Linked DNA regions of Homo sapiens. The protein of the gene in region 1 purifies or fractionates together with the protein of each later gene. This does not show direct contact. Each region holds a gene or a part of one and is shown on either strand. Other genes may lie near its edges.

What was found. The genes of interacting proteins can lie anywhere in the genome.
Region 2: the proteins of PGM1 (region 1) and PGM3 fractionate together in Homo sapiens (co-fractionation; one large-scale study listed by BioGRID). This does not show direct contact.

The regions. Positions count from the first base shown.
Region 1 is NC_000001.11:63,599,127-63,604,539, forward strand, and holds part of PGM1 (phosphoglucomutase-1), read left to right. Parts: intron 1-5,413. UniProt on the Homo sapiens protein: Catalyzes the reversible isomerization of alpha-D-glucose 1-phosphate to alpha-D-glucose 6-phosphate. The mechanism proceeds via the intermediate compound alpha-D-glucose 1,6-bisphosphate.
Region 2 is NC_000006.12:83,163,417-83,166,819, reverse strand, and holds the end of PGM3 (phosphoacetylglucosamine mutase), read left to right. Parts: 3' UTR 1-353; coding exon of another isoform or gene 354-433; 3' UTR 434-1,947; downstream 1,948-3,403. Other genes in the region: protein DOP1A, read right to left, coding at 2,101-2,160. UniProt on the Homo sapiens protein: Catalyzes the conversion of GlcNAc-6-P into GlcNAc-1-P during the synthesis of uridine diphosphate/UDP-GlcNAc, a sugar nucleotide critical to multiple glycosylation pathways including protein N- and O-glycosylation.

The DNA.
Region 1 (5,413 bases):
ATCCCTGGGGCAGGGATGACTTGGCAGAGAAACACCTTCAAGTCACTTTTTTTTTTGAGACACTGTCTTGCTCTGTTGCCCTAGGCTGGAGTGCAGTTGCAGGATCTTGGCTCACTGTAACCTCCGCCTCCTGGGTTCAAGTGATTCTTCTGCCTCAGCCTCCTGAGTAGGTGGGACTACAGGCGTGCACCACCATACCCAGCTAATTTTTGTATTTTTAGTAGAAACGAGGTTTCACCATGTTGGCCAGGATGGTCTGGATCTCTTGACCTCATCATCCGCCCGCCTCGGCCTCACAAAGTGCTGGGATTACAGGCGTGAGCCACCACACCCGGCCCAAGTCACTTTTTAACATGCTGTAACCCCCACTTTAAAAAAAAAAAAAACCACTTTTTAATTATGGTGGGGCCGGGCATGGTGGCTTACCGCACTTGAGTGGGTCACTTGAGCCCAGGAGTTCCAAACCAGCTTGGACAACATGGTGAAACCCCTTGTCTACAAAAAATAAAAAAACTTAATCTGGTGTGGTTTCGGGCGCCTGTGGTCTCGGCTACTTGAGACACTGAGGTAGGAGGATCACATTCACCCTGTGAGGTCAAGGCTTCAGTGAGCTGTGATTGCACCACTGCACTCCAGCCTTGGCGATGGCAAGACCCTGTCTCAAAAATAAATAAATAAATAAATATAAAATGAATTATGGTGGGCTTTGAACAATTGTTCTCCCCTTGTTTACACTTTCTGATTTTGAATCAGCACTGAATGCCAGTATGGATAACCTATTGTCCTTTCCATCCAGGAGCATACAATCTTTTGGGGGAGATAAGACAGAAGAAACACATAGACATACAAAGAACAGAATTAGAAAACATGCTGAGCTCAGCGAGAGAGAGAACATTTTGGATTGGGAAAGAAGAGGTGCCTGCACCTAAAACCAATTATGTCTTGAAGAGCGGATAGTGTGCGATAGAAGATGGGGCTACCCTTCAGGAAGGGGACCTGCCGAGAGAAGTGAGAAAGAGAGAATAGGCAGGACTCTTTTTTAGAGCCGGACACTTAGTCACTAAACAATCTTTGTTACATAAAATACTTAAATCAGCTTGCTTGGGACTTTTTCTTTCTTGGCTTCACTAATGCTCTTGGTGAAACATCTTTTTCCTTTTTCTTTTTTAATCAAATCTAATGCTCATGAAATTTTGTAGAAGAAAAAGAAAAACGTTCTCCCTTTCTGAGATAGAGGGTTTGTTTTGTTTTTGTAAACAAGATAACAGGGAAGAGTGCTCTACTGTTTTGGAAAGAGTGACTCATTCAATAAATATTTATTGAGCACCTATTAGGTTCTCGGTACTACGGATACAACAGTGAATTGAACAAAGTTTCTGCTCTACAGAGCTGTGGGGTTCTCGTTGAGCCTGACAGATGATAAACGTGTCAAATGAAGATAAGTTCTCTGAAGAAAAATAAAACCCAGTAAAGGGGACAGCATTAGAGGATGGGCTGCTCTTTTTAGTGCAGCAATTGGGATGTCTGATAAACCTCATGAGAGCAGAGACCTGAATGAAGTGAAGGAGTGAGCCATGCAGATATCCGTGAAAAGACTTCCAGACAGAGGAAGAGTTAGATGGAAAGGATAAACACATATAATCATTTAATGTTATAAAATTATGCCTCAGGTAAATAAATGTAGCATACATTTTATCGTACAAAGGGTCCCAATATACTATGACATTTTGCATATAGATTATAAGTATTATTCTATTATAAATTTATCTTGGGATAATAAGATGTGTAATCAACATTGATCAAATATTTAACAATAATTTTTTTCTCTCTTGGACTCTAGGGTAGGGAAAACTTTTCATCTACCCTCCTAGGTTATATACTGGGGGCTTGCAAATTAAATGTAAAAGACAAATGAGCAACAAAAAGACATTTGTGGGAGTTTACAGAAAAATGTGACAGGAGGCAGTTAGACTTGGGGGCCTATACATCATCTCAGTAGGGGAAGGCGGAAGAGGAGAAGAGCATTTGCTGGAAACCACGACTTTAGGAGAGATAAATCAGCCCTTAAGAGACTAGATAGGAGATGTGGTAGTTTTATGCCAGTGTCTATTTAGTTATGGTAATGAGTCGATCTTCCCTGGTTGTGAAACTCCAGAGTTCCTTTGGGGCACACTGCTTTTAAGACAGATGAAGGAGTTTAGTAAAAAGCCTATTTTTAAATGACTGGCTCAAAATAATTTTTATGTCACAGTGGTGTAGTCTGGACCCCTTTAGACTTTAGAAGAGCTTTCAGCAGATTGATTTGAGTGAGCTACACTTCTAAGAAAGTGAAGCAGGAAAGTTTGAACTGATCCCTTTATTCTCCTCCAAGTTCCCTTGAGGCCCACACAGACATAGCCAGTTATTCTGCTGACTTTGAAGCTGTGCTCACAGTTGGGATCCACCTTTGAAAAATGGCTCCTGAGTGTGTTAAGTAAGTAATGGCTAGCCGAGGGCTTCAGTTGGGAGGACTGCGGAGAAGACTTTTCTCCCCTGGGGTCCTCAAAGGGGAAAGAAATCACAAGGGGGCAGCATAGGGAGTTGTTTGGAAAGGGTGAGAAGGCTGTGCTTAGTGTTGGGATACGCGGATGGATGTAAGCTGGGTTTTGTTTTGTTTAGTTTTTTAAACTTCAGCTGTTGGAAGTCCTCCTTCCCATAGCTTCTCCAAATCACCACTGAGCTGATTCCCCAAGGCATAAAGACAGCCCTGAATTAACACAGTGGGGAATGCTAATTAAGTCATGCCAATAAAGATTTAATCATGAATCAGAAACACTTGGAAAATTATGTTTTCATATTGGAAAGATGTTCTTTTTTTCTCTATGAGTACCCCAAAGTGTTTTTGAAGGATGAAATGCGATAGGTGGTAGGACAGAAATATTTGGTTGACTTGTCCAGTATGCTAATGGTGTTGGAACAGGGACTCCAGTCTTCTGATATTTCATCTGGTTGGTCTTTTCCATAAATAAATATATCCCAGAGCAAGTAGTTCTGGGGATTGTTATAATATGCTGGTTAATAGCATGGAGAAACTGGCTTGGGCAATGTTAAGTAGGAGTTTCAGAGCTTTTAATATATGAGTACTGAGAGTTTGTAAAAGGACCCCAAACAGAAGAATTTTGGGAAATACCAATCTATACCATGCTGGGTTGATAGGACCATCTATATTATACAAGAATCTTCTCAGATTTAAGTTTCTTCTTTTTAAACTGCCATTAAGGGCATGCAGGGAAGGTGAAATTTTGTTTTAATATCCATGTATACCATATGGCTTATTTTGGCAACTAATATATGAATTTGTTCTTGGCTGCTTTGAGTGTGATTGATTCAGCCCAATAAGTATTTTCTAACCAGGTCACCACATGTAGAGTTATGAGGTAAGTGACAAAAGTCCTTCTGACCAAATATTAGTCCTGTATGTTGTACTCCAATGTGCTCACAAGTGAATTGAAATGTTGCTCAAGAGTGAATTGAAATGGCTACTACATTGTGTGAGTCCGGAGGGCTTAATCTGCATGGTGTCATAGCCATTTGGGGGCTAAACCGACAAGTGTGAGGATTGTAAACTGGCAGGGAGCTCAAAATGAGCTGATTGGTGAAACTTCATGGTGATCTCGTAGGTTGCAGCAGAGAACAATACAGGCCCAGTCCTCACATGCTTGGGACTTAAGGTGAAGGTTTGTGTTGGAGGCTAGGTGGGTTACGGACAAGCAGAGAACTGCCACAAGGTGCTGTCAGCACTGGGATGGAGGTGAGCAAAGGAGGCTAGGAAAGCATAAAGGAGGCGTGCCTGGTTCCAGCAGAGGGAGTAGGGAAGTGACAACTAAAACCAGACCTGAAGGTGAAGAGCAGAGAGGAATGTTCCAGGCAGAACCATAGGTGAGAGAATTTGGCATGTTTAAGAGAAAGCTCCCCTCACTGCCCCCCAACTCCGTATTTTTGTTTCATACTCTGCAAGGAGCAACTGCACTAAAAATGTACCTCATGTTTTCTATTTTACAAGTTACTGCCACATGCATGGCCTTATTTCCTGTCTACAACAAACCTTTCAGGTGTCCCAGGTCACAAAGTCAGGAAAAGAGCCTGGGAACTGCCCCCACTCTTCCTAGAATGTAAGGGGTGTTGGGCCATGTTCCAAATACCAGGTTCCCACTGAGAGTGGCTGAGGATAATGCTAATCTGGGCAGTTTTAAGCAGGAAATGAGTATGTGGAGTAGGGAAGTGCGGAGATCTTGCTATGTAAGTCAGAGCTATTTTTCTCACTACTGGGTTGAATTAAAACCAGTTTCTGGAATCACAATGTAAAACAAGAGGCAAAATCCACCTCGAGGCACATTGGTTTTTATTCCTTAAATGTTCCACATAAAAAATGAAAACTGAGTCAGTAGAACAGAATCGTAAGACCAGATGGCTTCCCAGGATCAATGGGGGCAAGCCATTAACTATCATCTAGTTAATAGAGGAAATTGCATTTTACAGTGGGATGGGTTCTAGAGTTCGAGTGGAAGATGAAACTTCAGTCAAAATCATCCTTAAAGTCCCATAGGAAAGTACCACATTGGAGAACAACATGTAACACAACAGGTATGTCTTTAAATAGCAGAAGTGCACTCAAGATACCCATACTTTGAGAAGCACGTGGGGACTAAGACTGAGCAGGGGCCTGTGGTCACTGGGTGAAATGGTGGCAGAATTGCCCATGCTGTTTAAATTTCACTCTTGTCTTCTTTGTCTCCCTGGAAGTTCTATATACAACAGTTACATTTGTGCAAGATAAATACTTGTATGATGTGACTACACTGCACATTCTTGATGCTACTCAGAGTGCACATATGAGAATCATCTCAATCATGATTCATCACCTGCAACTTGGAGCACTTATGCCCTGTGCCTTTCTACCGGGCTTATATTTGAAATCTCAGATTTCCCTGTCAAGGCTTGATCTTACCGCTGCAGATCTGTTTGGACCACTCTGAAAGAGTATACTTTGAGGTGCCTTCCAAAGTGAATTTGATGTACACCACGTAGCCTATAAGGAATTTTTACGATTTTATAGGTTCAATCAGCTGTTGTAACAGACACTCAAAACAACAGTGGATTAAACAAGATGTTTTTCTGTCTTGTGGAATATTGTGGGTCAGCAGGCCAAGACTAGCATGATGGATCCATGATGTTGGGACCCAGCCTCTTTAATCCTGTTGCTCTGCCATCTTGAAGGTGTTGCCCTTGCCCATCTGGTTGCAGATGGCTTCTACTACCACATCCATGTTTCATCTAGTGGGCACAGGGGAGAGATGGGGCAGAGTGTCTTCCCCCTTTAAAATCAGGAAATTGTGTACCTGACTATTGCTCACAATCCACTGGGAAGATCTAA
Region 2 (3,403 bases), on another chromosome or scaffold:
TTCATTGTTTACCTAATAATTTAATATCACTAGTTTCCTAGTGGGTCAAGCAGATGCAAAATCCAGCTTATTTTCTTCTATGTGCTCTCAAGCTTATTGCTTATTTTAAAGTAAAATCCTGAAAAAGGAAAATATTAGGTTGGTGCAAACGTAATTGCGGTTTTTGCATTGTTGAAATTTGCCGTTTTATATTGGAGTACATTCTTAAATAAATGTGGTTATGTTATACATCATTTTAAGCATATTTCTCACTTTTTTTTTGCTAATGACTTATTGCTGTTTATATTTATTTTAGACTATGGAAATGATGTTAGACAAAAATCAAATTTAGCGATTTTCTGAGTTCAAAATAGGTTATAAAGCAGCAGAGACAACACACAACATCAACAATGCATTTGGCCCAGGAACTGCTAATGAACATACAGTGCCGTGATGGCTCAAGAAGTTTTGCAAAGGAGACTAGAGCCTTGAAGATGAGGAGTGCAGTGGCCAGTCATCGGAAATTGATAATGACCAATTGAGAACATCATCGAAGCTGATCCTCTTACAACTATAAGAGAGCTGCCCAAGAACTCAATGTTGACCATTTTATGGTCGTTCGGCATTTGAAGCAAATTGAAAAGGTGAAAAAGCTCAATAAATGGGTGCCTCATGAGCTGAGTGAAAAATAAAAAAATTCGTTGTTTTGAAGTGTCATTTTCTCTATTCTATGCAACAATAATGAATCATTTCTCTATCGGATTGTGATGTGTGCCAAAAGGTGGATTTTATACGACAACTGGCGATGACCAGCTCAGTGGCTGGACTGAAAGAAGCTCCAAAGCACTTCCCAAAGCCAAACTTGCTCCAAAAAATGGTCATGGTCATTGTTTGGTGGTTTGCTGCCAGTCTGATCCACTACAGCTTTCTGAATCCAGGTGAAACCATTACATCTGATAAGTATGCTCAGCAAATCAATGAGATGCACCAAAAACTGCAATGCCTGCAGCCGGCATTGGCCACCAGAAAGGGCCCAATTCTTTTCACGACAACACTGGGCCGCACGTTGCACAACCAACGCTTCGAAAATTGAACTAATTGGGCTATGAAGTTTTGCCTCATCTGCCATATTCACCTGACCTCTTGCCAACAAACTACCACTTCTTTAGGCATCTCAGCAACGTTTTGCAGGGAAATTGCTTCCACAACTAGCAGGACACAGAAAATGCTTTCCAAGAGTTCGTCAAATTTGGAAGCATGGATTTTTATGCTACAGGAGTAAACAAACTTATTTCTCATTGGCAAAAATGTGTTGATTGTAATGGTTCCTATTTTAATTAATAAAGATTTGTGTGAACCTAGTTATAATGACTTAAAATTCATGGTCCCAAACAGCAATTACTTTTGCACCAAACTAAAAATATAAGTTAAAATGGAAGAGTCTAGGAGCAAACCAAGAAAAGATCACCTACTTCATCATCTCTGGTCAAAAACAAACCAAAAAACTTAACAGCTATCACTTAAGTTTGCTTCCTAGCAATTATTTAGCTTCCAGTCTAGATTACAGGATATATAAAACTTTCTTTCTTTCTTTCTTAACTATGACACTGGCACCAATGAGAGTCCTGTGACTGACTTTCACATTTCCACCATTACTCAATTACTGGTACCATACCACCTCTAATCCCCTAAATCAAACTGCAATTCAACAATAAAGGGCGTACAGAGATGACTTTGTCCTGAAGGAAAATGAATATCCTTGTACCCTCTATATAGCTAACTTCCAAATGTAAGAGAACTATGGGGTAACCTTTTGTTTCTATTCCTATCAAGATGAGCCTTTAAGAGAGGGACTTTTATTAAGCTCTTGACCAAGAAGAATACACTTGATTCAGAGTTTCTGATGCTCTTAATCAGAACTATATGTATTGTCTCAATATTAAATAAAGTCAAATGTTTCCATACAAATGATTTCTCCTTTGACTTCACCAGTCCACACTTGAAAAAAGACTTCCTTCCTGTTTACCTCCCTTGTACTTGTTGACATTCAGACCTGGGTTTGTGTCTCAATATTTGGCAACTTTTGCTGCCATATCATAAGCATGAAACAGCCACCCTCACCTGATGCTTGGCCATCTCCAATCCCTCCAAAATCACTGTCTTAAAGTCCTCCTCCTTGTCCTGTGGAAGGAAAGAGGAGAACTCACAGCCTTTGTTCCAGTGAAAAGTATGCTTGGCCATGAAGACCTTGTTTAAGGTGATTTGGATGGGAAGATGCCTTTCAATCAAAATAGTTTTCTTATTCTGTGGGACAAATTTTGGGCAAAAGACTGTCATATTTATTATTTAGATAAAGGAGGGGGGTCTTATAAAAATTCTCATTACTAATGAAAGGCAGGCATAACAGAAAAGGACATGTGCCTGGGGTCATATTTGCTTCTGGATTTGTCATGATTACTTGCCCAAACTCTGAGATATCAAATTGAAAGTACCAAAGTCCTACCCTGAACTCAGGACCCAGCATACATCCTCATCTCTGTCCTTTTATTAAGCCCCTACAGAAGCAACTAGGAATTTAAGTCAAGTTTTCTCATGTAAATTCCTTCCAGCAAAATCTCTTTAATCACTTTCTTCATTCCATTTTTATAGTTATGGAATTCAGTTTAAGAGCTGCTGCCTGATTAGGAGGACTCCAGAAGACTGGAAAATTTCTGAGCACTCAAAGCACACACTGCATACTAGATCTCACCAGACAACCTAGATCACTCCCAAATTGTACAATTTGATTTTGAAATTTGTTGAATGTAAAAGAAAATTTGACAAAAGGTTAATAACAAAGGCCCAATGGTGAGCATACCAGTTTCATTGCTGGTAGGTTCTTGGGCAAAGATCTGTAATAAATTAGCATGATGCATACTGAAAGATAAAAAGTATATAAGACAATATTTTACAAATTTTATTTTCCTACACTTTTTAATGGTATATGTTTTAAGTAAATTCCCACTTTTCCCCTTAAATAATTTCTCTAAGAAGATGCTTTATATTAAAGAGTCATAAAGCCAGTTTAACTCTGAGCACTGTTTTAAAAACTGCAGGTTGTGGGGGTCTTGCAATCTGTACTCAGCATCATCACTGTGAACTACAAAAAGGAAAATATCTCATGTTAAGGGCAAGAACTGTTTTGTGAAACTTTAGATTCGGTTATATAGCTGTACTGGATCAGGATAAGGAACACATTTCTGAATGTAGGTTATAATCAGAAAGTGAAAAATACTTAGAAAATGAATTTTAGCATATATATTTTATTTCATATAGATAAACAGAATGAATGCTAATGATTATTTCCTTTATTCTGATCGAGGTCTAGCTCATTCAATTTCAATGAAATCTGACTCATATTTTACAAATTTAAAATGTATAATCT